Homo sapiens: one gene and its partner. The protein of the gene in region 2 interacts with the protein of the main gene of each other region in a pairwise test. Each region holds a gene or a part of one and is shown on either strand. Other genes may lie near its edges.

The links. Proteins that work in one complex are often made in the same cells at the same time.
Region 1: the proteins of SVIL (region 2) and CENPF interact in a two-hybrid assay, tested with the Homo sapiens proteins (one study listed by BioGRID).

The regions. Positions count from the first base shown.
Region 1 is NC_000001.11:214,601,276-214,605,028, reverse strand, and holds the start of CENPF (centromere protein F), read right to left. Parts: upstream 1,835-3,753; 5' UTR 1,708-1,834; intron 1-1,707. UniProt on the Homo sapiens protein: Required for kinetochore function and chromosome segregation in mitosis. Required for kinetochore localization of dynein, LIS1, NDE1 and NDEL1.
Region 2 is NC_000010.11:29,633,333-29,637,085, forward strand, and holds the start of SVIL (supervillin), read right to left. Parts: upstream 1,640-3,753; 5' UTR 1,088-1,639; intron 1-1,087.

The DNA.
Region 1 (3,753 bases), on a different chromosome or scaffold from region 2:
TTTAATGGTTTTTTTCAATCGATTTTATCAATGAAACTTTTTATCAAAACAATAAGCAGTTCATGAAAGTACTAAGAACAATAAAAAAAATTAAGAGGGAGAAGCAAAGGTCTTAGACAACATATAAGTTGGATATCAAAGCCCTGGAAAGCTGTGTTTTGCTACCAGTTTTGTTTTTTTTTCTAGCTCTCAGTTCTTGGAACACAGCATCTTGTATTCCACTCCCATTTATCCCAAAACTACTGAAAGGAGTCACATGCCTCTCAACCAACAAAGGACAACTGACCCTGTCTCAATATCCTCCATTCCAATCTAGTTTGTCAGGAGTCAAAGAACTGTACCCAGAGACACACAACTGTAATTGCCCTAAACAATTCAGCCAGCAACTGAAATCATTACATCAAGATGCTATAGCCAACAGAATATAAAAAGGAGCAATTTAGAAAGATGATTAGAAAATGAGGGGAATAAACATAAAGAAGACTGGCAAGCTGAATGCTTTTCCATTCCAAAGTCTAAGATAGAGAACAATATAGATGTAGACCAAGCTAACTGTGATTAGAGCAGATTTTGGCCCATTAAGGGATCAGCTATCAGCCACCTGTATTGGGCCATTGGGGCAAAAGAACAAAAAAATAAACCCAGAAGTTTACTTTTGAGGAACAGGGAATCGAGGTGGGGAGTGAAGAAAAGCCCTGGATGAAGGTTCCTGCATGGAGGACTTGCAGGACTATTGTCCTTTCCAGAAAATGCTGTATCTTTATCTCTTAAATACGTGGAGGGCACTCTTCATGCCCGAACTACCCAGTCCCTTAGTCCCCAAGGAAGCTCTTGTGTGACCTCCTCCTGCCCCACCTCCACCACTGCTTTCCCGTTGTCAGAATTCCCCACCTCCTCCAAAAAGCCAGAGTCCCCGTGCACTGTACCAAGGCTGGGTCTGAGAATGATAACCCTGCCTTCTCCTCTAGGTCAGGCTCAAGGACACGACCCATGCCTTTTATTTCTGGGTCCTCATTACACAGCCGAGCCGGGCACACAGGCGCGTTCAAATAAATGTGGAAGGGAGGACCGGGCGTAGTGGCTCATGCTTGTAATCCTGGCACTTACAGAGGCCAAGGCGGGAGGATCCCTTGAGCCCAGGGGTTCCAGACCAGCCTAGGCAATATAGGGAGGCCTATCTCTATTTAAAAAAAGAAAAAAAAAAATGTGGACGGGAGGAAGAAGAGAGGGGAAAGAGAAATGCTCGCGTAACTAACCATAGGCACCCCACGTCGCCAACCAGATCAAAACTCAAGCTTACATCTACTCAATAAAACAAAGGACCAGGGCCTGAATTTCAATAAGGTTGGTTACGGGACTGGGAAGGCGGCTTGGAAATACCTAGTCATCTCCAATTCTTTTACGGAGGAAGAAAATGATCCCCTAAAGTGTGAGTCCGTGACCGAGTAGGGTCTGGGACACTAATCCGAGACCAGTTTGAACCCGAGCAGAAGGGCGCAGACACCCCTACGAACCACATCCCGGGGCGGATTCTCCAGTTCGGTCGGGTGGGAGGGGGCGGTCCCCGGCACCTACAGGGCCGGGAGAGTGATCCCAGAGGCCTCCCCGCCCAGTACCCGCCGGCAAAAAGCCAGCGGCACCCCCACGCCGCCCGCCGCCTACCGCCCGCCGCCAGGGCCAGGATCCGGACCCAGTCAGGACGCTCACCTTGCTCTCGGGGACGGGAAAACGACCTCTCGGAGAGTACAGTTCTGGCGCGGCTTCGGCGGGCTGGAGCCCAGAGTCTAATTCAAACTGCCCGCAGCCGCCACCGGTGCCCAATTCGCCCGCTTCTGGTCTCAACCAAACTTACCTCCACGCCTATTGGTCACTCTAAGTAGCTGCGGACCAATCCGCGCCTGCGCACTCAGACTGCCGCGTCTGATTGGCCCTTTCGGATGGATTTTAAAAACAAGCCCTCTACTGGAGGTGCCTGCGCCGGAGTTTACTGTTCTTTTTTGTTGTTGCGGGGAGACGGAGACCACGTGCTTTTGCTAATGCTAGACGCGGTTTTGGACCGCTATTTCCGCAAAAGTCAGGGAATGCGCCCGCTGATTAGGAAGGCGTGGTCTATCGCCTACAGCCAGGGGAACTGTGCTGCCTGGTGAAACCTCTTTTAAACTGCACGTACCAATCTACTTAATTAAACGTAAATTTAGGACATAGATACTAGGTGCTGTGTTTGTCATGCATTCTTTATCCGGTGTCGTTCTTAACAATTCTTTGAGGAAAGTATTATCCTCATTTTATTAAAAAGTTAACAGGCTCATAGAAGCTAAGTACAGTAATTTGAAATTGAATCTACGCAATGCAGGATGTCGCTCTTAAATGCTGTCCTTTATGGTTCATATTTCTAAGACGTGATTCTGAACACTTATTTTCCGGGATTAAGGCGTGGGGGGAGGACACTGCATCAGAATTTAAAATTCAGAAGAATCCTCAAAACGGGGTGTAATGCTTTTCGTGAAGCCCACTAGTTTTCTATGTATGTTATATACTCGTTTTATTTCCCTATTAAACTATAAATAAGCTTCTAAAGGCAGAAGCAAAACAATTAATTGTTAAAGTAATAGATCTCTAATGCTGTTGTCTGCCTCAATAGGTACCAAACTTTCCAGCCCCCTGACTTTACCTTTCATTAGACTGTTCCTGCAGTACCCAATTCAAGTGTCACTTTTTTTATAAAACCTCCCTAATCCCACCCACTCCTTAGAGATAATTATTTCCTAGACCTTTCCTGGAACTTGCAAACTTCATGTTTAGGATTTTCGCCGTGTCTTGTCTTGTATTTATGTCTACGTCTGACTCCCCCATCAGACTCAAAAATTCCTTTACAGTAAAATCTGTTTTAATTCATTTTTGCATCCCTAGTAACTTTGCACATAGTAATTTAAAATCCAGATCATCTTGGGAGATAAAACTGCTATTTGGGGAAAGGCCTTGTTCTTACTATCTTCTACCTTCGAATCCCCAAAGGGAGGGGAGAGAGCAGGTAGGGGAGGAAAACTTTTGTCAGACATTGCCATGATCAGTCTAGTGTCTGGTAGTTTTAGAATTTGAACCAAATTGTGTCTGGCTTCAACACAAATTACAATTCCATTGCTTCCCAGAGTAATTATTCAACTATGTATAGGCTGTTTAAGGAAAAATAAACAGCTAGAAAGACAGATAATAGAGGATATTTTTAAGGTTTGAATAAGAAATTTGCATTTACTATTCATTCATTCGTTCTTCAGCAGATATCTATTGAGTGGCCACTGTATAGTCAAGCCTTGTGCTTCGTTTTTCTACAATGAACAATAAAGAAATACATTCATTTCTTGAACAAGGGAAATAGGATGGATACCATTCTAGTAACTCCTGTGATATTTCTCTGACTTTAATTTTATGCTTCCCTTCCCCTCCCTTTATTTTTCCCCCGGTTGGTTTGTTTGTTTTGTAGGGGGAGGATCCCGTCCAACCAAAGACAGATGTTCTCTAAGGGTCCATTTTTGGCTCTCTGCTCTTCTCTTTTTAAGTCCTTTCCCTCAGTTAGCCAGTCTACTCTCTCTGGATTGTTCATCCACTACCTCGATATTCTGCTTGTGGACCAGTGTCTTTGAGTCTTCCCATCTTTTCTACAGATTAGACTGCAGGTTCATCACTGAAATCACTCTTTTGCCAGTGTCCTCAACTCCCTTGCCTCTTGTTCTATCTCCCAAACTTGTATGTGTG
Region 2 (3,753 bases):
GGTACAATTTATATCCTGCAGTTTTACTCAACAGGGGATACCACCAGCAGTTTGGCCAGGGTAATGCTGTATGGGACTGTCCCCTACACCATGTAAATTGGGCATTTACAATTCTTAACCACATCCTCCCAAATGCCAGTGAGTCATTGAGAAAACCTGAAACACCCCCATGCATTTTCAAACGCCCCCTAGGGTTGCCACACTATCTCCGGTGAAGAACCCTCGCAGTATTCACCGATGAAGTTCTTCTCTATAAATACTCTGTTTTCCTACCTGGTAAAAATAATGACTGCCCGTACTTGTCCATCTGATGTGGTATAAAGAAATAATCTTTTTTTTTTTTCAAAGAAGCAACACGTCAAATAAGCCTTCTATGTTCTAGAGTTCACTGCTGTTTTTCAGCAGAAACAAATCACTGAGCTAAATTACAAAGAGACCATAGCAATCTCCAGGGCTTTAAAAGGCTGATGCAGTATTTTTTCTTGGAGAATTTAAAAATAAAATGCAGTTCAAACTCTAGAACCTACAGTGAGGTTTTTCTCATAAATTCTGGAACATCGCAAGTTCTAGAAATCAAGCCCTGAAGAATGAGAGTACCAAGGCAAAGAACCCTCAGAACAAAGATTATGCAAAAGGATCACTGGTGATTTTCTATTTTTACATGAATTATAATGGCAGTGAAATAAAACTTGCCCTTCTGAACTCCACCCCCATACTTGTGCTACGATTATTAAAGTACGTTGCATTGTGAATATACTTTAATTCCAAGACTTTAAGTGCTAACATTTAGACAGAATGTACTAAGTTATATTAATCAAATTTTTAGTATTAAACCTTTCTCTACCATAAAGTAAATCCTTTAAAAAAAAAAAAAAGTCCAATCCTTCTCAACCCAAGAAATATGCCCAAGGGTATCTACAGGAATGGCTGCAGTAACTGGCAAACGCTGGCAGGAATTTTCCAATGACTGAAGTCAACAAATCCTCAGGAAACATGCTCAGACAGATGGCACTTAAAAAAAAGCAAAAACAAAAACAACAAAAAAAAACCTACTGCATTTAGATTTATAGGAAGATTTTTCACTTACTTCAAATTTCTGTATAATCCTCGTTCCTCTAAGTTAAAGGGGGAAAGAAAATCACACTGCAATTCCTTATTTTTCTAATTTAAAAAACAAAACAAAACACGTTATACCCTCGAATCCAGCTTTTGATGTCTTCGAGTATTTTCTTGGAGTCTCTTTCCAATGAATACTACTTTCAAATTCTAAGCACAAAGTAAAATCCCAAAAGTTAGCCCAAATAGCGTTGTACAAAATCAAAGATCACGATGTCAGCAAGCAACTGCATCTATCAGAAGCGATGATGATTCAGAACAGGATAAATTTAGAATGGTGTTTTCCAAAAGGCTTTTTGGATGTCAAATTCAGGAAACAGGTAAAGGCTACATCCCAAAAGTTCCTCTCCAAAAAGAACGCCAAAATATTAATAAAAAGAGTCTTCTTTTTGAAGTTTTTCGTCCCCTAGTGTCCTCGAGGCTGAACTTCCCCAACCTGGCCTCGGTGGAGCCATCCATTACTGGGCAAATCCACATGAAACCTGAGGACACTTCAGCCTGGGGAGGACGCAGTCAGAGCAGTGAAGCAACTTCACATGGGACGGGCCTTTTATGGCCTGAACTCGAGAGCCTTGATACCAGCTCATCTACCAGAAATAGCCCTGGAAATTCAGAGGAGCCCATCAGCTGTTGCAGCAGGCCTGGCCAGCAGCTACTTCAAATGCAATTAGGTTGTCCACACTGTCTTTCAGCTTGTTGTATAGAGAAATTAAAAATACAACAGCAGTCTACTGAATAAGCTACAACAATACAGATTTGGATGAGCAAACATTTCTCTAACTTAGTTTTTTTAGGCTAAAAAAAGAGCACACAATCGTTGACAAAGCTCAGACACTGAACACCCCAAAAGTAAGTAACAGACATATATACAATGAATGCCCGAAAAGTAACTAACAGACATACACATCTATGAAACAGCATGATATAATGGCACATGTCTCTACAAGTTTACAAATTCTGTAACCTCTGTGGATTTCTTCCCACTTCCAATAACTGTAGAAAATGAATCATCAGAAGAAAGCATTGTGCTGGAAGTACTTTCTCGAAAATGACACAAATATTTTCTCTTAAAGCCAAAGTCAGTCCTCTGAACTGGCAAGATCTATCTTCCTATGGCTCTCAGGTAGCTCACCTCACTGAAAAACCAGATGAACCTAACCTAATGAAAAAAATATTAACTATGAAGCACAACCACTTCTTAAATGGCCATATGCATTTTTTTAAACATTAAAAGGCCACTGACATGTTGAATACACTCAAACAAATATCACAACCCTGTTTACAAAATACTTACAATTGTAGGTCTCTGTCCCTGTCGGTACCAAGAACAGAGAGTCTTAATTGTCTGCACCAACTTCAGTATAAACCACAAACCCCATAAGACTTGGGCTGGAGTACAGCAAAAGCTGTGTGCTGCGCGGGGCCTCCCAGTGGTATGCCTCTGGGTGTCAGGGTTCTCAGACCACCAGCTGCTTCGGCCAGCACAGGAGGCCTCTCAAAGCAGGATCTAAATTCCTGTTACTAATTAACCCTACAGAACAATGCCTCTCCCTAAGAGGACAGTCCTGAGGCCAGGTGAAAAGATGACAGGTATAATAATTAAACATTGGCTTCATGACTGTTTTGTGCTAGGGGTATTTGTCCCAGTCAACTGTTTTTTTTTTTTTTTACCCATCTCAAGATAACAAACAAACAAAATTTCATAGCATGGCTTTTGCATCCTAATCTCAGTCCTGACCCTGATCTTCTTTTCCCTTGGACCATATTGGCTTTTTCCTCATTTTAAAGTTTATTTGATCTTGTTTTACGTATTTTTATAAGCTGTGGTAAGCCCCTCCCTAGAGAAAAGTAGGGCAAAAATAAATAAAAACTTACATGAAACAGTTCACTATTTGGGTCTTCTCTGTAAAGAGAAGATAGGAGGAGAAAATGAATCACTGTTACCACAATAGTGCTATTTCCTTCCTAAAAAAAGATTCACTCCCACAAAATAAACATCAGTCTTTTGTGTGCCTCTTAAGTTTTTGCACACTGCTTCCCCATAGCAACCAAACTGTCCTAGATTAATACACTGGAGTCTAATAGGGTAAATCTCCTTCGTCACTTCTTTTATATATCCTTTCTGTCTTTGATTATTTAAATCCCAGTTAATTCTTCCTGTGCAATCCATTTACTTTCCTAATTTTTTTGCTATCTGCCTGGCTTAGAAGACTCATCATACTCACTTCTTTCCAATGATGATAATCATGAATTGGAAGAAAAATCAACACACAAAAGATGTCAATTGTCCCCAAACTGATCTACAGATTAACAAAATTCCTATCAAAATCTTGCAAGGTTTTTTTGTTTTGTTTTGTTTTGTTTTGTTTTTTTGAGACATGGTCTTGCTCTGTTGTCCAGGCTGGAGTAGAGGTGTGCAATCATGGCTCACTGCAGCCTCAACCTCCCCAGGAGGCAGTCCTCCTGCCTCAGCCTCCTGAATATCTGGGGCTACAGATGTGCACCACCACACTGGGCTAATTTTTTAATTTCTTAGTTTTTGTAGAGATGGAGTCTCATTAGGTTGGCCAGGCTTGTCTTGAACTCCTGGGCTCCAGCTGTCCTCCCACTTCGGCCTTCTTAAGTGCTAGGATTACA